Linked DNA regions of Homo sapiens: region 2 is linked to region 1. Evidence: fine-mapped expression QTL. Tissue or cell type: lung. Region 1 holds a variant in brackets; the other region holds the start of a gene. All regions are shown on one strand. Distances are between the middles of the regions. Region 1 overlaps CNTN6 (contactin 6). Region 2 holds the start of CNTN6 (contactin 6).

Region 1 (16,819 bases):
ATGAATTACTCTGTACTTGTGTGAGAGAACATTGCATCTGTCATTGCTGTTTAAAATGTCATCCTTGAGAAAATGAGATAGGTGTTTTGAAAGAAACCCATGATATCACTCAGATGTAATTTTTAAATGCCCTTATAATATATAACTCTACCAATGAAAAGATAAACATTTATGATAAAAGGTAGTCATGAATGGGGCTTTTTGATCCTACATTATTTAATGTGTAATCACAGCTAGCATTTCAAATAAGTTTGCTCCATTATTGCAAAAGGAAAGGCAGCTGGGCTGGAGCCTCCTAATTGACCCTTCATTTATTCATCCTCCAAGCAACCGGAGAACACCTAATTTATACCCATCAAGTACTACACTAGGTCCTAAAGATTAAATGGTAGATAAGAAACAGCTACTTCCTGTCTCAACAGAACAGACAGGGGAAACCTTTAATAAAATTAAAAATAAGAAAAGGAAAATAAAGGAAAGTGCTAACGCCTACAAAGTATTATGTGGCAGGCATTGTTCCAAACTCTTTATGTAAATTAGCTCCATTGATCCTCACAATAACCCTCTGAGAGTATCATGATCTTCACTTTCAGATAAGCAGATTGAGGCACAGAAGAATGAACTAGCCTGCCTAAAATCACACACCGTATGTGGGAGAGTCTGTTTTCAAATCCAGACAGAGTGAAGAGTCCTACCACCTACTGCACTGTCCCAAAACATCAAGTGAAGTGAGAAAGGTGAAATTGACCTATAACAGAGTGGAGCTCAAAGTGAGAAGTAGTGAAGTTTGTCTGAATTGGAGAAAAGGCAAGGGAAGCCTTTCAAAGGAAATGGGGCTTGCATTGAACCTTGACATGTTAGTTTGTATTCTGGACAGAGAAAGTGGTAGAGAAAGTACAGGTCGGAAGAACAGTAAGAGGAAATGCAGATGTGTGAACAATCTTCAAGTATCGAAGAAAGTGTGGGGAGGTGGGCAAAAGACCTGAGAACTGAAATGCAGAAAGCTAGGGATCAGAAATGACTGGTTTTCTAGGTTGAGACTGAAAACTAATTTGGAGCCACTTATAAGTAGTCCTTTATATCCGGGCCTAATCTGCAAACAATAGGATAATTTAGAGATATTATGAGATGCCAAAGAAACATGCAAAAATCCATCATAGTACAATATTCCACACTCAGTATGACACTGTGTACGGTGTTAATTTATGGTTAAATGCCAGTATTGCCCATTTCATATAGGGTTACTATGAGGACCAAATATATTATGTGGAAAGCAGAGGGCAAGGGCAACTGATAGACTGGTATGAGTTGAAGATGGTGAGCTAGGCAGGGGTCTGGCCATACAAATACTAAGAGGCCAAGTTTTGTATTTTACTGCTTATCCTAAGAGCAATGGAACCGTTCTGAATAATGTTAAGGATGTTGAAGTTGTTTATAAAATGTAGTTTGAAGCCAGGCGCGGTGGCTCACGCCTGTAATCCCAGCACTTTGGGAGGCCGAGGCGGGCGGATCACAAGGTCAGGAGTTTGAGACCAGCCTGGCCAACATAGTGAAACCACGTCTCTATAAAAAATACAAAAAATTAGCCGGGTGTGGTGGTGTGCACCTGTAATCCCAGCTACTCGGGAGGCTGAGGCAGGAGAATCGCGTGAACCCGGGAGGCAGAGGTTGCAGTGAGCTGAGATCGTGCCAGTACACTCCAGTCTGGGCAACAGAACGAGACTCTGTCTCAAAAAAAAAAAAAAAAAAAAAAAAGTAGTTTGAAATACCACATACTATTTCCTTAAATATGTTAGTCTGACATATTAATGATATTATTAATATTATCAAAACCATAGCACACATACTTAGGGGGCATCCCAAACCTCAGTTTTTATCATATACAATGGAGTGAACGAATTCTTGCACCACATCACAGGATTGATTTTAAATGGTTCAAGGTTAAAATGCAGTAAGAATGCATTTTAAAGGGCTATAAACATGTAGGCATTTACAATCATCATAGTTTTTTCCAGAGGAATGCAAAGGGTTTTACACCTGCCATGCCATTCATCTTTATTCTATACCTGTAAGCTATTCTTAACCATGTTTTACAGGTGAAGACATTAAAAGGCAGGACAACTATGTTACTTGCCCAAGGTCAACTAACCTACAGCAGACCCAGAATTTCTAACATTTCCTTCTTGAAACAACTTTTTAAATTTATATTTATTTTGTAGACAGAGGAAGTAAATCAGAATTCTCATGAATTTAATGCCATATTCAAAGAAAAACAAAAAAGGTAAAGTCGTAACATAAAGGTCTTTGACTCCTTGCAGAAGGATTCTAAGATATTTGTGTATTTAAAGGTGATAAATATTTTTATTTCTATCTTTTGACCAGGGTCTTATAAGCAAGAACAAAAACCCTCACATTTAGAAATAAATTTTAAGAGTTTCCAAATTTCTTTAAAATTCTTTCATATATAAGAAATATAAAAGCAGTTATATGTGCTCCCGATGATATGGTGATAAAGTGCATTTATATCAGAAAAAGAAATTAAGACCCAGCAGAAGAAGCTTTAAAAATAACACTTAAAAATGCTTTTGGAAATTGTAAAGTCTCCGATAATTGCGAAGTGCGTATTAAGTGGGTAATGCATACCTAATTATAAATGAAAATGCTAAATGGCTTTTAACCTTTTTTCTACATCAGAAAAGAACTAACTGAACAAAAGCCATGAAGAAATATTTTTTCTTTAATTTCTTAAATTAAAAAAGTTGGTAAATTAGTATTGATTTTTTCAGTATCATTTGCAAATAGCATAAGCAATGTTACAATGGATTTAATATTCTCAATTTGTCTTAATGAAATAACAGCATAACCACCAATTGTTATCATATCAAGGAGAAAACTTTGTCTTTGCTTTTAAAAATAATTCAGATCTTAAACAAATAGACTGTAAGCAGTTGCGTGGTTAAATTATAGCAAGCCACTGTTATATTTATATTTAAAATCAACAGGGAAGTAGATTATTCAATGCTTTAGCCTCATTTTTTCCCACACTATCGCTGCTGGAAATCTATTTATGTGTCTTATCAGAAATGGTACTTTTTCAAAATTCAGGCCTTCTCCCACTGCCTACTTCTACTTATATTCAGCAGGAGCTAGTCTTTTTAGTTCATTTGAATAAAATTGTGCAGGCTAAGAGTTGGGATGGGAGAGGAAAATATAAGAAAGTAGGGGATCCATTCTATCAAAACTGGGAGTTTCTGATTTACAAAACTGAGACAGATGCACAAGCTGAAATGCTTGTTTATTACTCATGTTATTTGACAAACTGTTTCAAGGAATTTATGAACATAGCACATAGAGATTTTGCTTCTAAGATTTATAAAATTGGTTCAAATTACAGTGACATTTTTTGCATTAAAGGATCAAATATTTCTATTGTTTATTTATATATAAATAAATATATAATACATATAAAGAGCATTTATAAGTAATAATGTGTATATAATTATCTGAATTTATATCCAATATTGTCTAAAAAGTAAATCAGATTCAGGTGTTTAAATAGCAAATACAGGAGAGAAGATGGCGGATAAGCAGCAAGACTAGCTTGCAGCTCCTGCTGGGAGGGATAGAGCAGCATGTGGAGACTCACATCATACTTTGCCCCAGAAACTACCCCAGGAACATACCAGGAAAGCCGAGAGAATCCACAAACCCTTTGAAAGAACTGGATCACCGCTGCAGGCTCCCTGAGATGCAGAAAAACTGTGAGTCGGCTTGCTTTCTCAATAGGGAGGCTGGTGGTCTGGGGCAGGTTCTCAGCCCTGGTCACTAGCTGTCTGGAAATAGACTCAGTGCTGCTGGGGGCGGGTGGGGCATGGTGGGAGTGAGACTGGCCTTTAGGACTCACGCTGTGTGGGGGTGGGGTGAGGCCTGTGACTGCGTTTTCCCTCACTTCCCTGGTGAACTGTATGACTCAGCAGAGGCAGCCATAATCCCCCTGGGAATATAACTCCATCGGACTGGGAACTGTACCCCCATCCCTCACAGCAGCTGCAGCAAGCCCCACCCAAGGAGAGGCTGAGCTCAGACACACCTTATCCCTATCCCAGTCTGGTGGTCTTTCTCTATGTGTCCTGGTAGCCAAAGACAAAAGTCATAATGTCTTGAAAGCTCTATCGCCCTGCCCACCACCTGAGAAACCTGAATACTTTTGCATCCTCCGTATAGGACCACAGCTGATGCACTCCCGAAGCGCCATCTCCTGACTGGAGGCCAACCAACACAAAACCAGCGCTAAACAAAAACGCAACCAAGGACCCTCACAGAGTTCACTTCACTCCCCTACTACCTCCACCAGAGCAGGTGGTGGTATCCACAGCTGCAAGACCTAAAGATGGATCACATTACAGGACTCTGCAGACACTCCTCAGTATCAATCAGAGCCTGGTAGCTCCACTGGGTGCCAGATCCAGAAAAGCAAAGCAATCACTACAGTTCAGTTCTCAGGAAGCCCCATTCCTAGGGGAAGCGGGAGAACACCGAAACAAGGGAGCACCCCATGGGACAAAAGACTCTGAAGAGCAGCCCTTGAATCCCAGATATTCCCTCTGACATAATGTACCCGAATGAGAAGAAACCAGAGAGACAATAATGATAATATGACAAAATAAGGTTCTTCAACTCCCCCAAAAGATTATGCCAGCTCACCTGCAATGGATCCAAGCCAAGATGAAACTTCTGAATTGCCAGGAAAATAATTCAGAAGGTTAATTATTAAGCTAATCAAGAAGGCACCAGAGACCAGGCGCGGTGGCTCACGCCTGTAATCCCAGCACTTTGGGAGGCTGAGGCGGGTGGATCACAAGGTCAGGAGATCAAGACCATCCTGGCTAACATGGTGAAACCCTGTCTCTACTAAAAAATACATAAAATTAGCCAAGCGTGGTGGTGGGCGCCTGTAGTGCCAGCTACTTGGAAGGCTGAGGTAGGAGAATGGCGTGAACCTGGGAGGCAGAGCTTGCAGTGAGCTGTGATCACGCCACTGCACTCCAGCCTGGGCAACAGTGCGAGACTCTGTTTCAAAAAGAAAAAAAAAGAAGCCACCAAAAAAAGGTGAAGTCCAGCTTAAAGAAATTAAAAACATTATACAGAAAATTAAAGGAAAATTCTTCAGTGAAATAGATAGTATAAATAAAAAACAATCACAAGTTCTGGAAATCTAGGACACAGAGTAATGTAAAATGCATTGGAAAGTCTAAGCAATAGAATCAAACAAGCAGAAGAAAGAACTTCAGAGCTCTAAGACAAGGCTTTCAAATTAACCCAGTCCATCAAAGACAAACAATAATAATAATAATAATTCTTAAAAAATGAGCAAAGCTTCCAAGAAGTTTGAGACTACATTAAATACCCAAACCTAAGAATAATTGGTGTTCCCGAGGAAGAAGAGAAATCTAACAATTTGGAAAATATGTCTGAGAGAATAATCCAGGAAAACTTCCTCAGCTTTGCTAGAGATCTAGACATCCAAATACAAGAAGCTCAAAGAACATATGGGAAATTCATCACAAAAAGATAATCACCTAGGCATATAGTCATTAGGTTATCTAAAGTTGAGACAAAGGAAAGACTCTTAATAGCTATGAGACAAAAGCATCAGGTAACCTATAAAGGAAAACCTATCAGATTAACAGAAGATTTCTTAGCAGGAACCCTACAAGCTAAAAGGGATTGGGATTCTATTTTTAGCCTCCTTAAACAAAACAACTATTAGTCAAGAATTTTGTATCCAGTTAAAGTAAGCTTCATAAATGAAGGAAAGACACAGTCTTTTCCAGACAAATAAATGCTGGGAGAATTTGCCACTACCAAGCCAACACAAGAACAGCTAAAAAGAGCTCTAAATCTGAAACAAATCTTCAAAATACACAAAAATAGAACCTCCTTGAAGCACACATCTCACAGAACCTATATAACAATAACACAATGTTTAAAAAAAAAGAAAAGAAAACAGAAAACAAAACAAAAAAAAACCACAAGGTATTCAGGCAACAAAATAGCACGGTGAATAGAATAGTACCTCACATCTCAATACTAACATAGAAAGTGAATGGCCTAAATGCTTCACTTAAAAAATACGGAATGGCAGAATAAACGAGAATTCTCCAATAAAGTCTCTGCTGTCTTCACGAGACTCAACTAACACAGAAGAACTCAAATTTACTTATAGTAAAGGGGTGGAAAAAGATATTCCGTGCAAATGGACACCAAAAGCAAGCAGGAGTAGCTATTCTTCTATCAGACAAAACATACTTCAAAGCAACAGCAGTTTAAACAAACAAAGAGGGACATTATATAATGATAAAAGGATTAGTCCAACAGGAAAATATCACAGTTCTAAATATATATGCACCTAACACTGGTGCTCCCAAATTTATAAAACAATTACTACTATACCTAAGAAATGAGATAGATGGCAACACAATAATAGTGGAGGACTTTAACACTCCACTGACAGCACTAGACAAGTCATCAAGACAGAAAGTCAACAAAGAAACAATGGACTTAAACTATATTCTAGAACAAATGAACTTAACAGATATTTACAGAAAATTCTATCCAACAACTGCAGAATACACATTCTATTCATCAGCACATGGAACATTCTCCAACATAGACCATACGATAGGCCACAAAATAAGTCTCAGGAAATTTAAGAAAATCGAAATTATATCAAGTACTCTCTCAGACCACAGTGAAATAAAATTGGAAATCAACTCCAAAAGGATCCTTCAAAACCAGGCAAATACATGGAAATTAAATAATCTGCTCCTGAATGATCAAACAAAAAGCTGCCTCTTTGAAAAGATAAATAAAATTGATAGACTGTTAGTGAGATTAACCAAGAAAAGAAGAGAGAAGATCCAAATAAACTCTATTAGAAATGAAGCGGGAGATATTACAACTGATATCACAGAAATACAAAAGATTATTGAAGGCTACTATGAACACCTTCACATGCATAAACTAGAAAACCTAGAGGAGATGGATAAATTCCTGGAAATATACAACTCTCCTAGATTAAACCAGTAAGATATAGAACTGGAACAAGATAGGGATGCCCACTTTCACTCCTTCTATTCAACATAGTACTGGAAGTCCTAGCCAGAGCATTCAGAAAAGAGAAAGAAATAAAGCGTGTCCAAATTGATAAAAAAGAAGTCAAACTGTCTCTGTTTGCTGACGTTACGATTGTATACCTAAAAAGCCCTAAAGATTCATCCAAAAATCTTCTGGAACTGGTAAATGAATTCACCAAAGTTTCCAGATACAAAATTAAAGTACACAAATCGGTAGCTCTGCTGCCTACCAACAGTGACCAAGCTGAAAATCAAATCAAGAACTCCACCCCTTTCACAATATCTGCAAAAACAAACAAACAAACACTTAGGAATATATCTAATCAAGGATGTGAAAGACCTCTACAAGGAAAACTATGAAACACTGCTGAAAGAAATCATAGATGACACAAACAAATAGAAACACATCCCATGCTCATGGTTGGGGAGAATCAATATTGTGAAAATGACCACACTGCCAAAAGCAATCTACAAAGTCAGTGCAATTCCCATCAAGATAGCACCATCATTCTTCTCAGAACTAGCAAAAACAATCCTAAAATTTACATGGAACCAAAAAAGAGCCCACACAGCCAAAGCAAGACTAAGCAAAAAGAACACACTGGGAGGCATCACGTTACCTGACTTCACCTTTTTCTCTGAGGCCATAGTCACCAAAGCAACATGGTACTGTTACAAAAATAGGCACATAGACCAATGGAACAGAATAGAGAACCCAGAAATAAAGCCAAAAACTTGCAGTCAACTGATCCTCAACAAAGCAAACAAAAATATGCAGTGTGGAAAGGACATCCTATTCAACAAATGGTGCTGGGATCATTGAAAAGCCCAGTGTAGAAGAATGAAACTGGATCCTCATCTCTCACCTTAAAAAAAATCAACTCAAGATATATCAAAGACTAAATATAAGACCTGAAACCATAAAGATAATGGAAAATAACATTGGAACAACACTTCCAGACATTGGCTTAGGCAAAGATTTCATGACCAAGAACACAAAGCAAACACAACAAAAACAAAGATAAATACATGGGACTTAATTAAACTAAAAAGCTTCTGCACAGCCAAAGAAATAATCATGAGAGTTTACAGACAACCCACAGAGTGGGAAAAGATCTTCACAATCTATTTATCCAACGAATGACTGATATCGAGAATCTACAAGGAACTCAAACAAATCAGCAAGAAAAAAACAAACAATCCCATTAAAAAGTGGGCTAAGGACATGAATAGACAATTCTCAAAGAAGATATACAAATGGCAAGCAAGCACAAATGGGAAAATGCTTAACATTGCCAATTATCAGAAAAATGTAAATCAAAACCACAATGCAATACGACCTCCCTCCTGCAAGAATTGCCATAATCAAAAACTCAAAAAATAATAGACATTGGCATGGATGTGGTGAAAAGGGAACAGTTTTACACTGTTGGTGGGAATGTAAACTAGTACAATCACTATGGAAAACAGTGTTGGAGATTCCTTAAAGGACTAAAAGTAGATCTACCGTTTGATCCAGCAATCCCACTACTTGGTGTCTACCCAGAGGAAAAGAAGTTATTATACTAAAAAAAAAAAAAGAAAAAAAAGAAAAAAATTTCATGTGTGTCCGTGTGAAGAGACCACCAAACAGACTTTGTGTGAGCAACATGGCTGTTTATTTCACATGGGTGAAATAAACCCATGCACCTTCACGTGGGTGCAGGCGGGCTGAGTCTGAAAAGAGAGTCAGTGAAGGGAGATAGGGGTGGGGCTGTTTTATAGGATTTGGGAAGGTGATGGAAAATTACAGTCAAAGGGGGTTGTTCTCTGGTGGGCATGGGTGGATCTCACAAAGTACATTCTCAAGGGTGGGGAGAATTACAAAGAACCTTCTTAAGGGTGGGGGAGACTACAAAGTACCTTCTTAAGGGTGGGGGAGATTACAAAGTACATTGATCAGTTAGGATGGGGCAGGAACAAATCACAATGGTGGAATG[T/C]CATCAGTTAAGGCTGTTTTTACTTCTTTTGTGGATCTTCAGTTACTTCAGGCCATCTGGATGTATACGTGCAAGTTACAGGGGATGCGATGGCCTGGCCTGGGCTCAGAGGCCTGACATTCCTGCCTTCTTATATTAATAAGACAAATAAAACAAAATAGTGTTGAAGTGTTGGGGTGGTGAAAATTTTTGGGGGTGGTATGGAGAGAGAACGGGCGATGTTTCTCAGGGCTGCTTCAAGCGGGATTAGGGGCAGTGTGGGAACCTAGAGTGGGAGAGACTAAGCTGAAGGGAGGTCTTGTGGTGAGGGGTGATATTGTGCGGATGTTAGAAGAAACATTTGTCGTATAGAATGATTGGTGATGGCCTGGATATGGTTTTGGATGAATTGAGAAGCTAAACGGAAGATACAAGGTCCGAATTAAAAGGAGGAGAAAAATGGGTATTAAAGGACTAAGAATTGGGAGGACCCAGGACATCCAATTAGAGAGTGCCCAAGGGGGTTCAGCATAATTACTTGCTTGGTTGGCAAGTTTTTGGGCTCTATCCTTGAGTTTTTTTATGTTGTCATACACCAGGCCAGATTGATTTAGGTAAAAACAACACTCCTCATTTAAGAATATGCAGAGTCCTCCTTTTTCAGCAGTAAGTCAGTCAAGGCCTCGGCGGTTTTGGAGGACAACTGCAGCTAAAGAGTCAACTTGGGCCTGGAGGACTGATAAAGTTTGTGATTTTGAAGGCCTCTAAAAGTATTAAAGCAGCAGCAGCCGCTGCACGCAGACATGAGGGCTAGGCTAAAACAGTAAGGTCAAGTTGTTTGGACAGAAAGGCTACAGGGTGTGGTCCTGGCTCTTGTGTAAGAATTCCGACCATGCTAACCATGCCTAGGAAGGAAAGGAGTTGTTGTTTTGTAGAAGGTGCTGGGGTTTGAGAGATCAGTCGGACACGATTGGCAGGGAAAGCACGTGTGTTTTTATGAGAATTATGCTGAGATAGGTAACAGATGAGGAAGAAATTTGGGCTTGATTGAAGTAATGGGGGCTGTCTGTGAAGCTTTGCAGCAGTACAGCCTTGGTAATTTGCTGAGCCTAATGGGTGTCAGGGTCAGTCTAAGTGAAAGCAAAGAGAGGCTGGGACGAGGGGTGCAGGGGAATAGTGAAAAAAGCATCTTTAAGATGGAGAACAGAATAGTGAGTTGTGGAGGAATGGATTGAGGACAAAAGAGTGTAGGGGTTGGGCACCACAGGGTGGATGGCAAAACAATTTGGTTGATAAGGCGCAGATCCTGAACTAATCTGTAAGACTTGTCCGGTTTTTGGACAGGTAAAATGGGGGAATTGTAAGGAGAGTTTATAGGTTTTAGAAGCCCATGCTGTAGCAGGCAAGTGATAACAGGCTTTAATCCTTTGAAAGCGTGCTGTGGGATGGGATATGGGCGTTGAGCGGGGTAAGGGTGATTAGATTTTAACGGGATGGTAATGGGCATGTGATCAGTTGCCAGGGAAGGAGTAGAGATGTCCCATACTTGTGGGTTAAGGTGGGGGGATATGAGAGGAAGACGCGAAGGAGGCTTTGGGTTGGGGAGAAGGGCGGCAATGAGACACAGCTGTAATCCAGGAATAGTCAGGGAAGCAGATAATTTGGTTAAAATATCTCGGCCTAATAAGGGAACTGGGCAGGTGGGGATAACTAAAAAAGAGTCCATAAAAGAGTGCTGTCCAAGTTGGTACCAGAGTGGGGGAGTTTTCAGGGGTTTTGAAGCCTGGCCGTCAATACCCACAACAGTTATGGAGGCAAGGGAAACAGGCCCTTGAAAAGAAGGTAATGTGGAGTGGGTAGCCTCCGTATTGATTAAGAAGGGGACGGACTTACCTTCCACTGTGAGAGTTACCCAAAGCTCGGCGTCCGTGATGGTCTACGGGGCTTCCAAGGCAATCAGGCAGCGTCAGTCTTCAGCTGCTAAGCCGAGAAGATCTGGGAAGGAGTCAGTCAGAGAGCCTTGGGCCAGAGTTCCAGGGGCTCTGGGAGTGGCTGCCAGGTGAGTTGAACAGTCCGATTTTCAGTGGGTTCCTGCACAGATGGGACGCGGCTTACGAGGAATCCTGAGCTGCGGGCATTCCTTGGCCTGGTGGCCAGATTTCTGGCACTTGTAGCAAGCTCCTGGGGAAGGAGGTTCTGGGGGAACGCCTGGCTGCTGCGGTTCAGGTGTTTGGAAGTTCTTGTGTGCTGGAGATGTGGCTGGGGTTTGTGTCACAGTGGAGGCAAGGAATTGCAACTTTTTTCTATTATTGTACACCTTGAAGACGAGGTTAATTAAATCCTGTTGTGGGGTTTGAGGGCCGGAATTTAATTTTTGGAGTTTTATTTAATGTCGGGAGCAGATTGCGTAATAAAATGTATTTTGAGAATAAGACGGCCTTTTGACCTTTTAGGGTCTAGGGCTGTAAAGTGGCTCAGGGTTGCTGCCGAGCGAGCCATGAACTGGGCTGGATTTTTATATTTGATGAAAAAGAGCCTAAACGCTATCTGATTTGGGATAAAGAAAAAGAAGCATTAACCTTGACTATGCCTTTGGCTCCAGCCACCTTTTAAAGAGTAAATTGCTCGGCAGGTGGGGAAGAGCTAGTCACAGAACGAAACTGTAAGCCAGACCGGGTGTGAGGAGGGGAGGCTGAGGAAGTATTGGGACTTAGCTGGGTCTGGCAATGAGCAGCTTGGGGAGGACGGGAAAGGTCAGATGGGTCTGTAGAAAAGGAAGACTGGGAAGACTCAGCGATGCTTGGGGTTGGGACCAAGGGGACAGGCGGGAGGGAAAGAAGGAGGATCTGGGAGGAATCGCATTGGGAACAGAGGCTAGGGAGGGAACGAAGTGTGAAAAATGCCTGGACGTAAGGCACCTCAGACCATTTGCCCATTTTTCGACAAAAATTATTTAGGTCTTGTAGGATGGAGAAATCGAACGTGCCGTTTTCTGGCCATTTAGAGCCATTGTCAAGTTTGTACTGGGGCCAAGCGGTGTTGCAGAAGAAAATAAGGTGTTTAGGTTTTAGGTCAGGTGTGTGTTGAAGAGGTTTTAAGTTCTTGAGCACACAGGCTAAGGGAGAAGAAGGAGGAATGGAGGGTGGAAGGTGGCCCATAGTGAAGGAAGCAAACCCAGAGAAAAGAGAGCGTAGAGACACGGAGGGAAGGGGTTTGGGGGTTCTTGCCTCCTAGAAAAGTGGGACTTGCCGCTGAGGGTGAAGGAGAAGGGGTTGAGGGGTACTTGGCCCTGCCCCAGGAAAGCGGGACTTGCCGCTGAGGGTGAAGGAGAAGGGGTTGAGGGGTACTTGGCCCTGCCCCAGGAAAGCGGGACTTGCCGCTGAGGGTGAAGGAGAAGGGGTTGAGGGGTACTTGGCCCTGCCCCAGGAAAGTGGAGAAGAGGTAGAGAGGTAGGAACAAAGAGCAGGAGGACGGGGGATTGATCTCCCAAGGGATGTCCCCCGATCCGAGTCACAGCACCAAATTTCATGCGTGTCTGTGTGAAGAGACCGCCAAACAGGCTTTGTGTGAGCAATAAAGCTGTTTATTTCACCTGGGTGCAGGTGGGCTGAGTCCGAAAAGAGAGTCAGCGAAGGGAGATAGGGGTGGGGCTGTTTTATAGGATTTGGGAAGGTGATGGAAAATTACAGTCAAAGGGGGTTGTTCTCTGGTGGGCAGGGGTGGATCTCACAAAGTACATTCTCAAGGGTGGGGAGAATTACAAAGAACCTTCTTAAGGGTGGGGGAGACTACAAAGTACCTTCTTAAGGGTGGGGGAGATTACAAAGTACATTGATCAGTTAGGATGGGGCAGGAACAAATCACAATGGTGGAATGTCATCAGTTAAGGCTGTTTTTACTTCTTTTGTGGATCTTCAGTTACTTCAGGCCATCTGGATGTATACGTGCAAGTTACAGGGGATGCGATGGCCTGGTCTGGGCTCAGAGGCCTGACAAAAAATCTTTGCACACACGTGTTTATATTAGCACAATTTGCAATAGCAAAATATGGAAACCAACCCAAATGCCCATCAATCAACAAGTAGGGTAAAGAAAATGTGATATATATATATATATATATATATATATATATATATATACACACACACATATATATATAACATATATATATATATATACACACACATATATATATAACATATATATATATATATATATATATATATATATATATATATAGCATGGAATACTACTCAGCCATAAAAAGGAATGAAATAATGGCATTCACAGCAACCTAGATGGAATTGGAGACTATTATTGTAAGTGAAGTAACTCAGGAATGGAAAATCAAACATCATACGTTCTTATTCATATGTGGGAGCTAAGCTATGTGTACACAAAGCATAAGAATGATACAATGGATTTTGGGGATTGGGGGAAAGGGTGGGGGTTGGTGAGGGATAAAAGATTACATATTGGGTACAGTGTACGTGGCTCAGGTGACGGGTACGCCAAAATCTCAGAAATCACCACTAAAAAGCTTATTCATGTAACCAAACACCACCTGTTTCCCAAAAACCTATTGAAATAAAAAAAGGAATATAAATAAATAAATAACATTATTGGAACAATAAGAAAGCCAAAAACAAACAAATAAACAGCAAATACAAATAATAAAGAGTTTTGATGGAAATCCATTGAAATGTTAATTATGTTTTAAAGCAGGAGTGTCCAATCTTTTGGCTTCCCTGGGCTACAGTGGAAGAAGAATTGTCTTGGGCCACATATAAAATACACAAATTTTTAGCTGATGAGCTAAAAAAAAAATTGCAAAAAAATCTCATAACGTTTTAAGAAAATGTATGAATTTTTGTTGGGCCACATTCAAAGCCATCCTGGGTTGCATGCAGCCTGAGGGCTGTAGGTTGGACAAGCTTGTTTTAAGGTATTAATTTATGCTCTTCTTTTCCCTAGAAGTATAATATATACAGAAAAGTACAAAAAACATGAGCAGATAGATCAATGAAGTATTGTTAAGCCAGATCCAGGAATAGATATTTCCAACACCCCCAGAAGGTCCGCCCATTATATCCCCTTCTAGTTATGACATCCTCCTTCTGCCTCAAAGATGAGCCATATCTTGACTTGTGAATTTGTAATTATTATTGCTTTTTAATTTTATATGAATAAAATCATGCAATATATAATATATTGCTTCAAGTCTGGCTTATTAGCCAACTATGTTTCTGAGATCCTTTTATATTGTTGTAGGTAGCTGTAGTTCATTTTTCTGATCACATATAATATTTTATTGTATGAATATAATGCAGTTTATGTGGAACTTTTACTGTTATTGGAAAATTGTATTATTTCTAAGTGCATTCTTCTATGATTATTCTTGCACATATCTTTTGGGAGATCTGTGTAAATATTTCTCTGTTGTATATACCAGAAATCAGAATTATCGGGAAATTGGGCATGCATATGACAATTTTAAAAGATAACACCAAATTGTTGTCTATAGTGATTTTATTAATTTGTACTCTTTCCAGTAATGTTTTTTTCTATATTCTTGACAATATTTGATATGATCAGTCTTTTTAAAAATTTTAGCCTTTTGCAGGGGGATAGTAAAAAGTATCTCATTTTGGTTTAGCTTCTGTTTCCTGATCACTAATGAAATTGGGCACTTTTTAAAATTATTATTGGCTATTTGGAAACCTCCCTCCCTCCCCTTGGTTTCTAGGAATAACTTAATTCATTTTTCCATATTTTAATTGTGTTGTCTTTGTTTTCATTAGTGATTGATTCTAGAGAAGAGCACAATGTTGCTTTTTTGTGTAGGAAACCGCTTCTACTGTGTCGCTTGCCTTTTCACTCTCTTAATCATGTCTTTTGATAAACAGAAAAATTTAAATTTAACATAGTTCAATCTATTGGTCTTTTTCTTTTTGAGATGTTTTTTGTAAAAAGTTTAAGAACTGTTTTCCTTCCTTGCGATCATATTTTCCTGTTATCTTCTATAGTGTATTTTGTCCTTCGTATTTAAATTATAATGCACCTGCATTTTATTTATTTATTCATTTATTTTCATGGTGTAAAATTGGTTCAATATACAATTTTTTTCTATAGGGATCCAATTGAGCCAGAACATATATGAAAGATGCAGTCCTTTCTTTGCTGTTCTACAGTGCCATTCCTAAAGGGAATTAAATCTGCATGCCTGCTTGAGCCTGCTATTGACCTCTTTTTTCTCTCTTCCTTTGTTGTATTTGTAAATGCCATATTCTAGTAATTACTGCAGTCTTACAATAAGTCTTAATATCTGATAGCTATTAAAATAGACTATATGGTTTAAAAAAAAAAGAGGCTTGAATTGTAAGTGAAACCAAAGGAGAATAAAATCCAAAGAGAACCAGAGGAGAATAAAAATTCATGCCATGAGATCCAATCCATTATGAAAATTGAGCTTTAAAAAGCTTTAGAATTAGTGACCAAGGCAAAGAGCGGTACATATCTTTCATTGGATAAAAATATAACAACTGTTTCTGTGAGTATAATCACCCTGAGTATAAAAAGCCCGAGGGAAGCTTCTCCTGTGAACCTGCATCAAGAGCAGTGGGTGATTCCGTGGATTATAGTCCCCTCACAGACATGCAATGCTGGCTTTTTTATGGTAGCTTCCTATAGCATATCTCAAAAATAATAGCTACCATGTATTAGGTATCTATTAAGCCTTTTACATAACATTTGTTAAAAAAAAAATTCCCAAACTATGTGCCTGGTTTGCTACCACTATAGCCAATGTCACTGGGCATCTCACTATTCTCTGACTGTAGCTGTTACAAGAGCATCAATAGATTCTCTAAAATGCAGACAATAGAAAGGAGTTGCTAAATTTGTCAAATTTTAAGTGAATCTACTGCTTATTTTGTTGGTATGTTGGGTGGCTCTTCTTGGTGGAAGGCTCACAACCTGTAACTGACTCCAGAGCTTCTGCTTACCAATTTCAGAAAACTAGGTTTCGAGTATTTCCTTTGAGCATTCCTTCATGTGCTTTTATGAGGCTAACTCTCCTTCCCTATTTCCAAGATGGATACTTTGGGAAGGTAACATATTCTAGTTCTCAAATTGATGTAAGTACATTTATGTTACTTTCTTCTCTATTTTTGTAGCAGTGAGGGAATAATGGGAATTTATACAAATAAACCACATGAGTATTTCAAGTTCTGTGATGTTGATCACATTCTCTGTGATGTATGCTTTAGTTGTATCTTCCTCAAAGTAAGTACCAACCTTCCTACAGTTATTTCTAATTAAACAGGATAATCTAGTTTAATCCTCAAAACTACCATGTAAAATAGAAGCTACTATTATAATTTCAATTTTATATATAAGGAAAATTAAGTTCAGAGAAGTGAAGTAATGTGCCCAAGGACATCAAGAAATAGTGAAGTTGGGCCTGTAATCTCAGCACTTTAGGAGGCCAAGGTGGGTGGATTGCGTGAGTTCAGGAGTTTGAGACTAGGTTGGCCAACATGGTGAAACTCTGTCTCCACTAAAAATACAAAAATTAGCCAGGTGTGGTGGTGGGCGCCTGTAATCCCAGCTACTTGGGAGGCTGATGCAGGAGGATCGCTTGAACCCGAGAGGCGGAGGTTGCAGTGAGCTGAGATCGTGCCATTGCACTCCAGCCTGGGCGACATGAGTGAAACTCCATTGCAC
Region 2 (16,819 bases), 150 kb before region 1:
TCGGAGCCAATAGATAGATGCTTCTTCCATGCTTAATTCAGGTGGAAAGCCCTGAGAGGCATTTGATACACTTTAAAGATGTCTCTATACTATTGAACACGTATTCCTATATGGTGTTGAAAAACTCAATACATCCTTTTATTGGCTTTTCCTTGCTCCATTTTTAACTCACACTGTGATTACTGTTTTCTGAGATCACGTTTTGAAATGAGTGGCTAACGTGACAAAAGGCAAAAACTCTTTGACTGAAGCTCCGCTCTTGGGAGAACCCAGACTAAGTCAGCTTGGTTTCAATAAGTGATAATATTGTATCGACTAGTTATGGTTCCATAGAAAATCATTTCAAAATTCAGTGGCTTAAGACAAGAAGAATTGATTTCTCTCCCATGTATACAAGATGGATGAGGGTAAGGTCATCTAGGCTGTGCTTAGTTGGGCAGCTCTGATGTTTACTGAGATCTTTGGATCAACAGGAATAGCTCTGTTCCAAGTACTTTTCATCCTCCATGGATTGCAGTTTAGCCAAAGTGAGTTTTTCTATGGTAATAGCAGAGGTAACAAGAAGGTAAGAAGAAACACAAACGACAATTAAAGCCTAGGCTTATAGCCAGCACGTTGTGACTTCTAGTCACATGTTATTGGTCAAAGCAAGTCACATGTTTAAGCCCCAAATCAAGGGGCAGAGAAGTATACTCCATCTATGATCAGGCAATGGCAAGAGTGTATGTGCAGGGAAAGGTGAGGAATTGAGACTAATAAATCAATCTACCATATGATTATAAAAGAAATATCAGTATATTTCCTGTGAAAGAAAAGCCTATGACGTATTTCTGGTAATGATGCTAGTAGGCCAATAGGTAAATTCTATTTAATGGGAACTAATGACTCTCATGTTTTCTATGTCTAAACATCAAAGAAACACAACACAACAATTTTTACACTTCATAAATTACAAACAAACAAAAATGGAGGAGACAGAAAAGTTATTTAAGAGACTACACTCTTGATGCATAGTAAGATTTTAGAGGGTATGGCTTCTGACCTCTTCATTATGCCTGGGAAATAAGATACAGTAATAATTATTACATGTGGAACATCTCTCAATCTTCAGAGTTGAAAAAAATTAGAGTAGAAGAGGAATAGCATTAATGAAATACATTTATTTTCACTGGGGCCCAAGCAATGTATTCTATAATTTAGAAAGATCACAATGGGCTTTATGGTAAAAAATACCTCTAAAATAATAAGCCTTGCAGAGCAATTGGCACTCATTAAAATTCAGTGTTGGAAGCAGCAGGTGGCAGGCAGTTTCATGGAACAATTTTGCAGTGTCCTTCCAGGGTTGAAGCAAAACAATTCATGTCATAAGATACCAGGTCTTACCCAGTCCCCATTTTAAGTTGCCGTAAGTAACAGTTCCTCTATTTTTATATGAATAGATTCAAGGATCTTAAATTGAATGTATTACAATAGCTTTCTAAAATATACATTTTCCTACCATGTGGTAGAAGGTGAATATATGCATTTCACTTACTATTTTCCCTTTGAAAAGGAATACGTTTCACGGCAAAATGTTGTTACTTGTTTTTCCAGAGGGAAGTGAAATTTGAATATCTGTAAAATTACACATATGTGGTATAAGTGAAAAAAATTGTTTTGGGGGCAAAAGACTAAGGAAATTGTTATCACCCTCCCTTCAATGCACTTTTTCCTGAGGGAAAGTAAACGTTGATATGTGCAGTGGATTTCTCTTCATGACACTCTAATCCCTACCACTCCCTCACCAAAAAGGAAAAGAAAAGGCAAGAGAAAAAAAAATGATTTCCATTTCCTGGGACCATTTAATATTTTCTATTCTTTACCAAAGCACCGTGGAGGTTTGAGACAAATAATTACATTCAGACCATTTTCATGAAAACAAGCAGTTCTTTGAAGAATGTCGGACTTAACTATCTAATTAATTGTTAAATCTTGGCAGTTATAGCCTAAAACGTTACATATTTAAGAGAAACTTTTTACTATACCTTCAACACTAGAAATAACCATAAAATTATAGCACTTATTTTCGCCTTCTATTTGATATACCAATGGACATAGCAGGGGACTCTTGACAAGAGGTTTAGAATACAAATGCTGGGGTTAGGTGGACTTGGATTCACATCCCCGTTTATCTTTTTACCGTTGTGTGATCTTGGCAAAAACCTCAATTGCTAGTCAAAGGTGATAGGAATATCTGCCTCATAGGGTTGTTACCAGGACTAAGTGAGATTTTGGATTTGGTGTCTAGCTCACAGGAAGCACTCAGAAGATTATAGAAGATTATTCATATTTTGGTAATATTAGAAGTGTCTGTGGTGAATAGAAGAAAAGTATGTTATAGAAAATATTTTTTTAAACAATGGTTATTTAGAAAAGTTGTACATACCAATGGGCATAACAAACAAACCAAAGCAATAAATAACACCGAGACAATATTACTCATGTTGGTATATGACAGATCTTTAAAATAATTGTGCATGTTCAATAAATTATTATGTGTTAATCTTTGCTTTTAATTTATTTGGAGAAAAAACTGTCATTACAGGTTTCTTCACAACAAGGCAATTATTTAAGAGCAATAGTCAATAATATTTTCCTGTAGGAGGCAGAAGTAGATCAGGGTTTTGTGGAGCCTGAAGTTTATAGCATTTTGAATGCCCACTTCAAGAGTTGGCAGTGAAGAGCAACCCAAGTATTTCACTGGAAAGTATCAGGAAAAGTACAGACATTGGATTTTTCCCCCTCTTTGGTAAGGAGAGAAGAGGAAATAGCAGCTATAGGAAGAGGCTCCCCTTGGGGCCTTGAGGGATTAAAAAAAAAAAAAAAAAAAAAAAGGCAGTGCTTCCTGGTTCACTGAAGTGGATTTTACTGGCAAAGAAACTTTGCCACAGCATTCCTTCAGAGAAATTCTACTTGTGAGCTTCTGCCTAATGTCGGCGTCCGCCAAGTGATGCAATTCCACTGGAATGTGTGCAACTGAACTGTTGGGATCAATGCCTTTGCAAACCTCAGAAGGAAAACATATATTCAGTACAAATGTTAGCTGCTACACTAAATACAAATGGGACAAGCTACCCTATAAAAAGACAACGCCAATTTTTTTTCAGTCAAGCTGAATGATGTTTATAAGAAAGGCATCTAAAACAGTGAGAAAAAGTGTTAATATTCTAGTATATACAGGAAAACAAAAACCAGAAAGAAAGGAGAAATGCTGAAAATAATTCATGTCAAGGAGATGTAAACATATTTAAAAGGATTCTTAAGATGTTATATAATCATAAAAACAAAATCCACTAGAGATATTTATATATGTAGTGTGTATATGTGTGTGTGTGTTTGTGTGTGTGTGTGTAGCCTTTATCGATGAAACAGTTTAGCAGCAGAATATATAGTACAAAGCTTCTTGAAAGATAATTGCTCCATTTGAAAAATATTTCTGGGAAATATTTAAGATACCGCTCACAGAACTTGACATGTCAAGTAGACAAAATGTGAGAAAGAGTATAGCGATTTGAATAATAAAACAATATTAGTCTAGATTCTTGAGTCAAGCTGCTTAGGTTTTATTCTTCCCCCACTGTCACCCAGTTGGATGTTCTTGGGCAATTTAGTTAAACTTTTTATGTTCCAATTTTCTTGTTGGTTAGATTTTGCAAATAATATCAAACCCATCAGGTTGTTATAAGGATTGAATAAATTGCTAATGCCAATGTAATGCTGAAGACACTACCTGACACATAATTTGAGTTATAGAAGTTGCCTATCAATATGTTCATCATCGTCTTCATCATTGTCCAGAAAAAATATAAATGAATAAAACTAACTCAGATCTATAAGAAACTAAAATGTCTAAACATAAATTGAGATTAGAGAGGTGATTGTTTCACTAAAATCAATAATAATAATAATGTACACAACAATATTTTGGTAGAATGATAGACTTATTGATTTTATTTTTTCAAAGCCTTTAAGAGAATCTACAGTCTGTCATCATTTAATTCATTAAAAATCAACTTTATTGAGGTATACTTTACATGAAATGACATATACCCATTTGTCTAGGTTGATAAGATTTGTCCAATACATATACCCTTGTAATCACTGCCACAATCAAAAACAGAATGTTTTTATTACCCGAAACATTCCCTGTTGCCCATTTGCAATTTATCTCTTTCTCCTTATCCCTAAACAAACATTCTGTTTTCTGTCAGTATAGAATTGCTTTTTTTTTTTTGATATCTTTCTCTTAGCATAATAGCTGTGGAATTAATCCAAGTTGTGAATATCAGTAATTTCTGGCTTTTTATTGCTAACTTGTATTACAATTATGCATTCACCACAATTTGTTTATCCATTAACCTGTTGATGGACATCAGTGTTGTTTCCAACTTTTGGCTGTTATAAAAAAAATTTGCTATAAAATTTCCTTGCAAAAATTTCTGTGGACATATGCTTTCATTTCTTTTGGGTGAATACATAAGAGCGGGGTTTCTCAGTAATATTACTTTAAGAGTGCCAGCTTGTTTTACGAAGTAATTGTAGCACTTTATATTTCTACCAGCAAGGTATGAGTTCCAATTGTCCCACATACTCAAAATCTTTTGGAATTTTCAATGTTTTTATTTTATTTTATTTTATTATTATTATCATTATTATTTTGAGATGGTGCTCACTCTGTTGTCCAGGCTGGTGCACAGTGGCACAAACACGGCTTACCACAGCCTCCATCTCCCGGGCTCAGGTGATGCTCCCACCTTAACCTCCTGACTAGCTAGGACTACAGGCACCTGTCACCACGCCTGGCTAATTTTTTGTATTTGTTGTAGAGATGGGGTTTCACCATGTTGCCCAGGTTGGTCTCAAGCTCCTGGGCTTCAGCTGTCTGCCCACCGTGTCCTCCCAAAATGCTAGCATTACAGCTGTGAGCCACCAGTCCCAGACTGAATTTTCAGTGGTTTTCATTTGAGCCTGTTTGATTAGTGTCTAGTAGCTGTGTCTTGCGGTTTTGATTGGCATTTTTAAAATAATGATGTTGAGCATCATTTTAATGGGCTTAAATGTCATTTGGATATCTTTGCTAAAAATGTTCATTTTTTTTTCATTTTCTAATGGGTTGCTTATTTTTTTGTTATTGAGGTGTAAAAATTTCTTAATGATATATTTCAAAAATCAGTCTTTTTAAATTTAATGAAGTCCAATATTTCTATTTATTCTTTATGTTCTGTGTTTTTATGTGTGTGTATGCACATGAGTTTTAAGAAATCTTTGCTTAATCCTAGGACTCATACATTTTCTTTCAGAAGTTTTTTTTTTTTTCAACTTTTATTTTAAGTTCGGGGTACATGTGCAGGATACGCAGGTTTTACGTAGGTAAACGAGTGCCATGGTGGTTTACTGCACAGATCATCACATCACCTGGGTATTAAGCCCAACATTCATTAGCTATTCTTCCTGATACTCTCCCTCCTCCCACCCGCCACGATGGGTACCAAGATGTGTGTTGTTCCCCCTCCATGTGTCCATGTGTTCTCATCATGCAGCTCCCACTTATAAGTGAGAATATGTGGTGTTTGGTTTTCTTCCAGAAAATTTAATGCTGTACCTTTAAGTGTGTGACCTATTTCACGTTAGCTTTTTGTGTGTGGTACGAGGTAAGGATTAAGGTTAACTTTTTTACAAATGAATATTCATTTGTTCAAGCACCATTTCTTGAATTATGATGCCTTTATCATTGAATTACCTGATAACTCTGTCTAAAATCCATTCACCTAAAATCGGCACATATCCATTAGCACAATATCCATTGAATTACCTGATACCTTTGTCTAAAATCCACTGTATATGTGCTGATCTGTTTTTGAACACTTAATTATGTTTTGTTGACCTATCCTGCCAACATCACACCGTCTTTATCGCTCTATTACTAGTAGTAAATTGTAAAAATCACAGGATATGTCTGCCAACTTTGTTTATCATTCGATTTTACTTTCTTGGTTAATTTTATTGCTACATAAATTTTAGCCTCATTTGATGATTGCTACAAGAAAATCTCCTGATATTTTCACTGAGATTATTTTAAAGCTAAAAACCTATTGGGAGATAATTGACTTCTTAAAAATATTGAGTGTTTTTGACCCATGAATGTGGCATATTTCTTTACTTATTTAGGTCTTAATTAATTTTCCTTAGTAATTCTGTGTAGCCTGTAGTGTACAGACCTTGTTTTAGATCCTTGATACCCACACCTCCTCCCCCAGTGTTTAAAAATTAATAAAATGAGAAGATATCAGCAAAGGGATCTGAGAAGGAGCAGGTAGTAAACGAGAAGAAAATTTAAGAAATTAAGCAAAAGCAATGCTTAAAGGAGGAGTACTTGGTAAACTGTATTACTTGTGAGTGATACATCAAGTAAAATTAGGACTAAGTTGACCATTGCATTATTCTATGCGTAATTTAATATTGACTATGACCAGAAACACTTATGTGGAACAGTGGGGACAAAAGACTAATCAAAGCAGATTCAAGATAAAATGAGAAAAGATGAATGGAGACAGTAAGTACAGAGAATTCCTTCAAGGTGTTTTACTATAAACAGAAGCAAGGAAATGCAGTAGTAGACAGAGGAAGACGGTATGTTAAAGGGGTGCTGATTTTTAAAATGGGCCAACTAGCAGCAAATCTCTTTGTTGTGATGCTACAGAAGGTAGGGAGAGTTGATGATTCCACAGAGAGAGACAAGTGGGTAGAATGGTCCCTTGAGTAGAAGACTATCTAAAGCACAGGTGGATGGCTTGGTCTAAGGAGGGAGCACGGTTCACCTCAAGTAACAAGATGAAGGGAGAGTCTGTGGTCACAGGGGCCAAGTATGTGACTAGATGTAGTGACAGGAGCTTATTGAAGTTTTCTTCTGGTTCTTATTCCTTTTTGGGTAAAATAGAAAGCAAAGCAATCAGCTGTCCTTGAATATGAGTCAGACTGTTGGAGATTTGAGTAAAGGGATATTCTTTAAGCTTGAATGAATTTCTTTCCACAAAAAAAAAATAAAGCCTACTACATAATGATTATTTTTCTTAAAACTCTGCAGAAAAAGTCATCTTGGCATTTTTACAAATAAAATATATTTTTATTCCTACAGAGCAAGAAATACTTCTATTTTTTTTAAAAAAAAAAAAAAGAGGCAATAAAAACAGATATTCTTTCTATAAAATTATTAGTCTAGTTTGCCTTCTTATGAATTGGGAGAAACAATAGGGTAGCCCATTTTGAGTTTACCTTGTGTTAGGAAGCATCATCTCCTTTCTAAAGCCTCTTATAATGTTGGTTAGACCCTGTGAAGAAATCCATAGGACATAGTCATAAAATGTAGTCATAGAAACCTTCTTGCTCATCAGATGAAAGTAAACTGAGGCCAAGAAATATCTTTTGACTTATTTCCATTTGATTTGGGGATTTCATTTTCTCAGTATCCACTTACTTTAAGATGCTAAGAGTATAATTTCTTTGTATGCCAACATGAAAATAAGTCCAAACTATCATTCTTTTCTCATGTTATAGTTATGTTTGTATGCACTAGAGTCTCAGTGTGCATGTATGTGTAATTCCTATTCCTTAGTTTTCATCCTTCAAGCAGTTAGTCCCTTCAAAACCCGATGACAAGACCCAAACATATTAAAAAGTTTAGTTGGAGGGCCCAGGGTGAAACACAAAAACAATTCTTCTTCTTACAGAGCTCTTAGGCAAACACATAGACACTTGTTCTCTGCCTCTGGAATTACAAATATGTTACTCGGAAAGCAGCAATACTCTTTTGGACTTGTTTGACTTCACTTTCTTTACCTGTCTTTAAGAAGCCTCATACACACATTTAAAAAATACAACTTATAAAGGTTTTAGTGATAGTGCATACAATCATTTGATTTTATTTCCCTTTTCTCTTCACCTTCACTAATAGGAGTTACTGGCATGCTTCAAAAAGCTTACATTTGAATACTGTCTAAATCAGTGCAGACCCTTGACCAGCTTAATCTTTGCTTGCAAATGACAATGCAGTGAAACCAGAGGAAGAAAAAAATTACTTCCTTTCCTGTTGGAAACCTAATAAGTAGTTAGTCTGACCCAGTTTTCAATAAGAGAGATTTTCTGATGACCCGACAGGAGTGACTATCTCCAGTCAAAGAAAGAGGAGGGTGAATTTAATCTTTCATGGCCCTGGAATGGCAGCTGCTCTCAGCTCTCTCTGATTCTGTGAAGGTTGATGAAGATAGAGCTGGCTTTCAATGTAGAAAGAATTTTCCTTTTGAATATTCCAAACGAGAGCTTTGCACATGTGCCTCAAGAACTGATTGTCTGGCTCCGACAGGAATGCAGCAGGAGAGGAGCGTATTTCATGCTTAAGACCAGAGAAGAGCCACGCAATACTCAGTGGATAAAAGGCTTGCAGTCCCAGCTGGGAAAAAGAGTCCCATTATCTCCCAGCTGCATAGACATTCCATACGGCTTGGTTCTGCCTGGACGCACAGCATGCCTGGCTGAGAGCTTGAAACAGAGTTCTGCAGAAAAACTGTAAAGATCCCGAGACATTTCCCTGGTAAGATCTGTAAGTACAAAATTGTGCTGTGTCTGCTGCAATGAGAATATTGCTGGGCAAGCTGCAGCTTTTCTTCCTTTCAATGTCTTTGTATTAGCATAACAGGTAAAAGCTGGGGTTGGGGGAGAAGTCACTGCTTTATTGATGCTGTGTTTCTATGATGCTGATGTTTAAAATGCATTTATTCCTTGTGTGGGAGAAATGTATTGAATCTGTATTCCGGGAGGTTAGGATCAAACCAGGGAAAGAAAGACTACAGGTATATTTCTCAGTGTTTCACTAGTCTTTGCTGCAGTAAAACTAATGGGCAAGACGGGATGACAGTGCTAATTCTGGGACTTTCAGATGGCTACACGCCCTTTCTGTAACGGCAGATGGGAAAATGTGATCGCTAAATGTTTTTTGTCTTTTTTTTTTTTTTAATCAAAGGGATGAGGGGTGGGGTTTGCAGTTCTCACCGGATGATTTAAAAGAATGGTTATAAAGTTTCCTAGGGGAGAATTTGGTAAGGGGAGCAAAGCAAGACTGGAGGTCATATGGGCTCACCAAATTTTGTCTGGCATTTTGCTTTATACCCAGCTTCTAGATAACAGCCTCTGGAGTTTCCTTTACCATTTACACCAGTTAAGTTGTCAGTATTAAGGTTCTTATAATACTTTATGAAAACTTTCAGAAGTTGATGACTTGGGAACAAAACTTTTAAGAGCTCTGAGATTAGCCACGTATAACCCATTATGTTAATGGGATACTGTAACATTGGGGTTTGGGGGGAAAATTGGAATTCATAGTTTTTGCTTCTCCAAATGAAAACTACTTATGTTTAAATAATCAGCATCCTGACTATGTCCTCTGAGAAACATTCACAGAATGACTAAATAGAAGTTATACTGAGAAAAAATAGAGTGAACAGTAGAATCACACAGAATCAATTTGGAAAATGAGGTATTCATAATTTTATCTACAGTGGCAATGTTTTCTGAAGATGTCTGTAAAAGAAGAAGCATATGCTGAATATTGAATTGCTTGTTTTGAGCAATTTTCATTTATCTGATGGGTTTATCATCTTTTTATTTTTGTTGTTGAAGGTTTCACCAATTTATGTGCATTGTATTTTATAAGGAAAGAAATGTTTAAGCAGACTCTTTTTCCCTCCTCCTTCACACACATGTGTAAACATACGCATGTTCACAAAACAAACATAAACATACAAAAATACTTACACAATTTGTGTAAAAAAAAAGAAATACAGAAGCATTTCATCTTTGATGTTTCAGTGGGGTTTCTTTTTCTTTTTTTAAGCAATAATCATGGCTGTGCAGTCCAAAGATTTCAAATATATAAATGTGGAAACTTTTATATAAAGCTTTATGTGAGGTTATATAAATGCATAACTTATCACATCTTAGCAAAAAAGTCAATCATTTATAAATGACTTCATTGCATTACTTCCTTTGAATATTTGTAGTGAAGGACCAGAATTTTTTTTTAGAATTTTTATGTAGCTTTCCTTAATGAAAACAAATTCACTTGTTTACTTAGAAAAGGATCACATATTTTCTCTGAGTTTAGAACCCCCTCTAAAAAAAATCAATTATGTTGTGAAAAGGATGTGTGGTATATTAAATTGATTGCATACTTCTGGGTTTTTTTTTTAGTAAGTAAAAATGCTCAGTAGTATAATAGTAAATTTGTACCTTTTAAATTCTTTTATGTGAGGAGAAGGAATACAAAATATTTGCTTATTTATTCACTGTTTATTTTAATAACATATTAATTGGAATGCAGAAGTATAAGTTCTACCTATTAAAAATGACTCAAACTATACATAAAAGTTCAAAAGGGAAAACCCATCACCTGTAAATAACAATCATGAAATTTGGCGACTATCATTGGAGACATACTGGTGCCTAAATTCAGATAAGATGAGAGATAAATACTTTTGTAAGAATGGTTTCTTACTATACACCTTTTAAAAAATAAATAATAAATATTTAGATAATATAGTCAATAATAGATACTCTTCTGTAAGAATGAGATCTTATCCTACACTTAAAAAAAAACAGAAATATTGGCCGCGCGCGGTGGTTCACACCTATAATCCCAGCACTTTGGGAGGCCGAGGCGGGCGGATCACGAGGTCAAGAGATTGAGACCATCCTGGCCAACATGGTGAAACCCCATTTCTACTAAAAATACAAAAATTAGCTGGGCGTTTTGGCGTGTGCCTGTAGTCACAGCTACTCAGGAAGCTGAGGCAGGAGAATCACTTGACCCCGGGAGGCGGAGCTTGCAGTGAGCAGAGATCGCGCCATTGCCCTCCAGCCTGGGTGACAGAGTGAAACTCCATCTCAAACAAACAAACAAACAAACAGAAAACAGAAAACAGAAACATTGAGTTTAATTTTTGATTTTAGATTTTAATTAAACTGAAAAAAGAGAAGTTGAAACAACATTGAAGAAATTGTTAAATTTCATGTATAGATTTCTCTCCAATGGAGATATTATGTCCAGAATAATACCCTTACAGTTAAGACCAAAAATTTTGAAAATAGAAATAGTTTGAAGATTTTTTTGGATGCACGTTTAAATAGTAAACAAACTTTTATAACCCTTGTTATGATAGTTAAATGCATTTGCAATGTGACTTGTCATCAACTCCACCCATACCACCTCAATTTAAACTACATCAGTTTTACATTACTGAGTACATACATTCTGGCTGAATTCCCATGGTCTCAGTTTAAACTTATTTCAAATTTGTAAGGAATTATCCTTTATCAACAGGCTTTTACTACCCAATTCACCATTTCTGTGTTCTTTATTTTCAATTATTTTTTGGGTTGTTAGATTTCAGTAAGTAGTACCTCTCCACCAAAGAAATAGTCATAGGTGCTATATTTTCTATGAGTTTGCATCTTGAACATGTATTTCTTTTGCCTTAGACATGCAAGATACGTTATCTTTCTTGGATCAAGCTTAATTTTTTCTTTTGGAAATGTGTAAATGTTTAAACATTTTTGGAGACCCTTCCTGTACTGAAAGTTGTTTTGCAACATTTTTAGGTCTGTCTGCAATTTCCGTCATTGAATGTGACTTGCTTTTTTTCTGATAAATGCCTACATGATTCTTTTGTTGTGTGTGTGTGTGTGAGTGTGTGTATGGGTGTTTGCTTTTACAGAATATTCCTGGATTTGTTCCATTTTCATTAACTTTTTTTGAGGTTTGCCCCATTAATTTAAGATTCTTTTATTTTAGGATTTGTTGTACTATTTCTTTTTTGTCCCTTAACTGGGCGTGGCCAAATTGTGGTTATCTTGCTTCTTTCTTTTCTTCAGGATCACCAATTTTGTACATGTTGTATCTCATTTGTCTACTTTCCACATCTTTCATATCCAAATTTCTTTTCAATTTTAATTGACAAATTGGTTATCTTCTTTATTTGAGAACCACTTGTTCTCTTGTTTGCCACTTGAATGAATAGTATAGCTTGCAATAAACCTATTAAGGCACAACCTTCTGTATTGTGATCTTGTAAATACATGTTTCCTTCTCTTAACACTCTAGCAATTTCCTCAGCTGGCAGGTTTTTGGGCAATCTGTATCCTCCTGAAAGTAAGAGAAAAAGAAAGTACTGATCGGTTTTCTCTGATGTCCCCCAAAGGTCCATGATTTTTAGTATTTGGCTACAGTGGAAATGGGCTTCAAGTCGTGTTTTGGGGTTTTGTCCACTAACATTTTCACTGAAGACGGAGGGTTTTTGCTTCGTTTTTTATCTGCACCACGACCACTGCCACCTTTTATATTTCTCTTTATTGTTTCTGTGGGACAATAGAGGACATTTAAAAATCTCTTTATTTAAGGAGTTTTAAATAGCAATCTTTCAGTTTGGAGGAATTCTTTGAATGAAAATTTTATTAGAATGTTGTTATTCTCAGTATTCATATTGAAAAGAGCTGTTCTAGTTAAGACTGAGTTCATCTGCATGATGTGTTGTAGTATTAAACATTTATTACGGTAAAGGCGTAACACAGGACATAGTAGAGGAAAAACAGAGCCATTGGGCATGCCTTCTGATAATGTCCCCTATTAGTTTATATTGATGAAGTCTGTGGCCTACTTAACTATTTTGCAATGAGTCCTAAGGTAATTTACAGAAACGTTACATCATAGTAACATGAATCAAAATCTGTAGACTCAAATCCTTTTTGAAAGTATACTGAGTAGAAAACTTATATGTATTAGGTTTACAATTAAATGAATAAATGAATGAATAAATAACTGAATTTCCCTATATTTCAAATCCTTAAAAGAGGCAATAAAAGAACATGATGTGTCGTATGAAGTATTATAAAAAACGAATGATCTTACTAAAAAGCAAATAGCAATTTCTCAGTGTCAATAAAATGATAGTGAGAGCAAGATTCAGGAGGCAAGCTCTTGAGCTGAAGTGCCGCCCATTGTAGATTTCCTTCCCTATATCTAGCACAGAATAGCTCTGTGGTCTTAGGCAAGTTTCTTAGCCTCTTTGTACTTCAGTTTCCCCATTCATAGTGGAGATAATATTAGTATTGACTTTACAGTATTTTCAAGAGAATTCAGCAGGTAAATATGTAAAAAATCTTGGAAGAAAGCCTGGCAATTAAGAAGCACTCTATGTGTTAGTTGTTTAGTTATTGTTATATTATTATTGCTATTATAACATTTATATATGAGCCTTAGGATCAATTGGGTAAAAATAATATAAAACAATGAAAAGACTAAAATTATAATTATCATCTAATCAATTGTATTGGGTATTTAATAGAGAATTAAATTTGGAGTGTAAATCATAAGTGGATATTAAAATAGAGCTCAGGAAAAATGGTGAGAAGATATAGAGATGCTGGTCTCTGGATCCAACTAGATTAAAAATAGAAATGGTATTTCTGTATACACCAAGCAATTGGACATGATCAAGAAAAAGGGTATATTTGCGGGGGGGGGAGGGATAGCATTGGGAGATATACCTAATGCTAGATGACGAGTTAGTGGGTGCAGTGCACCAGCATGTCACATGTATACATATGTAACTAACCTGCACATTGTGCACATGTACCCTAAAACTTAAAGTATAATAATACTAATAATAAAATAAAAATAAAAAAAAGAGAAAGGGTATATTTGATTTTTTGATTATAAAAGCAATGAACAGAAAAGCACGAGAACAAATAAGCCAGAATTTCTTTCTTCAAAGAAAAACATCACAAATACTTGTACATTTCTTTCCTGTTGTTTTATGTTGTTGTTGTTCTTTTTTTATGATAATGCCTTAATCAAGTAATGTATGCACCTGGAAACAACAACAATAAAATTTGAAATTATAGAGAAAACAATAAAATAAAAAATAAAGACCTTTCCATGATTTCCTGTCTTATTTCACAGAGATATTTTCTATAGTTTATTTTATTGTAATGTTTTCCTTCTGGCCACCATTATACATTTGAATAATATATTTGACTTCTATTGCAGAATCTATAAACTCAACATCATGTCTGCTGACTCCATTTTTTTAAAGATGGGCAGTTTTTCCTATTTTCACACTTTCACAAGACAATTTTAGGTGTTACATAAGTCTTTGAATTCTTTTGGCAGTAATGCACACACACACACACACACACACACACACACACATATATATATATATATATATATATATATAGTGGGAAATTTTAAGTATTCAGGTAAGGATTAAATTTAATAATGACCAATTCCCACCCCCAGAATTACCAAATGCTAAATTTTATTGGAGATTTAACATCTTCAGTATTCATAAAATGAAAATACTAATACAATATATAATAAGGGCCTACGTTGTAACTCTACCTAGTCCATTCCTCATTCTACATTACCATGAATTGTATATTTACATATAATTGTTATATATGTATGCCTATATAAAATATTATTTTAAAATATTATGGAAATAGTATATTGAAAGCAAACTTATTTAACTTGTGTAACTCATTCCATATTAGACTATTTAGACTCATTCTTATAAATAAACACATTTCGCCGGGCTCAGTGGCTCACGCCTGTAATCCCAGCACTTTGGGAGGCCGAGGCGGGCGGATCACGAGGTCAGGAGATCGAGACCATCCTGGCTAACACGGTGAAACCCCGTCTCTACCAAAAATACAAAAAATTAGCAGGGTGTGGTGGCGGGCGCCTGTAGTCCCAGCTACTGGGGAGGCTGAGGCGGGAGAATGGCGGGAACCCGGGGGGCGGAGCTTGCAGTGAGCCGAGATTGAGCCATTACACTCCAGCCTGGGTGACAGAGCCAGACTCTGTCTCAAAAAATTAATTAATTAATTTAAATAAATAAATACAGTTCTAGGATATATTTCACCTTATGTGTTTTATATTCTTATTATTCATTCCCTTATTGAGGGATATTTAATTTATTGAAAATATTCACTATTGCAGTGTTCTATTATCACATACATTGAAAACTTATACACATTAAGTGAGATTTTCATTAAGAATATCAAGTCCGTGCTGCATGTCAACAATTTCATGTTTGTTATTTCTGGTCTCAGAATTCCTATGTTTCAACAAATGTACTTAATTCATCCGCACCTACTATGATGTTGATGAAGTTGGACTTATTTCTTACTTCTTACTTCATATTCAACCAAAGTGTTTTTTAGTAAACAGTCTTTTATTGGTTTGAGGAAATATTCTTTATTCATTTTTTCAACTTTTATTAGTTAAAAATGGTATACTCCCTTTATCGTATTTTAGTAAATAACTATTTTAACATAAAATGTACTTTTATATTTTCAAATAAAGACTAAAGATAGTGTATATATCTTCTTCATAAACAGGACAATGACTTGTTTAAATTTACTCTGAGATATTTCTCCCAGTGCTCATATTTGCACTATTTATTTTTAAACTGCCCCCAATATTTTTGTCAAGGTTTTTTTAGACTTATGACGTGATTTCCTGAGTTCTTTATTTACCATATTCTTGCTATTTATGTGCATCTCCTAGATTCTCTTCTTGTGCTCTGAAGACCATTTTAAGGTCATTCAAAAATTGTTTTAAACTCCCTTAAAATTTATTTGTTGAAAATCGCTTATGTTAGTCACATTCTAAAATAATACTGTAGTTCATCAGAGCACTCTATGTGGAAGATACTTTTCTCTCAACAATTTTTGCATATTCTGTTCCATGATCTTCTGGAATATAATTTTGCTCATGAGGGGACTGTTTATGATGTAATTATCACACTTTTGAATAAATATTCGTCTTTTCACTCGGACAGATTTTAAGAATTTCTCTTTGTCATTGATTTCTTCAAGTTCACTGCAATGTATGTAGTTGTGGAGTTGTTTCAAATTTATCTCATTTAGGCCTCTGCAAGCTCCTAAATCTTTCTTCCATTCTGAAAAATTCTCAGCTATTATATATTTCAATCTTGCGTCTTTTAAATCCCTTTATTTTCTCCTTCAGGAATGCTCATTCATTATTTCTAGGCTTCTGTCTTTGATTTCTTTGCATTTCTTTCATTTTCTAGTGTTGCAGTCAGTGTAATTTCTACCAATCTGTATTTTATACTTTTATTTTTTAAAAAACAGTTTTAATTTCTATAATTTATATTGCTCTTTTAAAAATTATCCTGCTATTCTGCTTGTTCTTAATAGTTTCTCTCCCATTCTTAAGCTCTCAAAAAAATTTCAGTAAGTTTATTTTAGATTGTGATTGTTTTACTATTTTAATTTTTAGAGTCAAATTTCTTTATTACTTATGTCTGCTGGATTTCCCTCATGGTGGTTCATTCTTCCTGGTGCTCATAATTTTTTTATGACAAATTCACCTTCAACAGATGTTGTTTTCTATGGGAGACCAACCTTGTTTGAGTTGTGTATGCTTTTGCATAGCATCGCATTGCTATTGATTCTACAGTGGCTCTACAAATATCTCTGGTTCTGGACTATTTTATATGTGAATTTTTTGGCTTCAAATTATATTACCATATAGACAGAATGAATTTGGGCCCTACAACCAAGCATAGTACACATTCTGGGTTCTGATTGCCTTTTTCGGATTCTTTTTTCTACCAGATCACCAAGTTTCCATAAGGTCAGCTATGTAATGCAAAGGACCCCTTTTTGGGAGGTTATTCCAACTTTACAATCTCCTTGCCAGTCT

The links. PIP is the estimated chance that this variant, and not a neighbour inherited with it, causes the effect.
Region 2: CNTN6 starts here. The variant in region 1 is fine-mapped to the expression of CNTN6 in lung (TOPMed, PIP above 0.99).

Annotation. Positions count from the first base shown.
Region 1 is chr3:1,232,004-1,248,822 of GRCh38, forward strand. The region is part of intron 4 of CNTN6 (contactin 6); the gene reads left to right. Among named protein-coding and RNA genes, the nearest start is that of CNTN6, 150 kb to the left of the region's middle. RefSeq lists an enhancer at 3,498-4,697. The variant T/C (reference allele first, on the strand shown) is at 9,116.
Region 2 is chr3:1,084,495-1,101,313 of GRCh38, forward strand. It overlaps CNTN6 (contactin 6), which reads left to right and starts at 8,530. Exons shown (of 23, transcript NM_001289080.2): 1 at 8,530-8,626.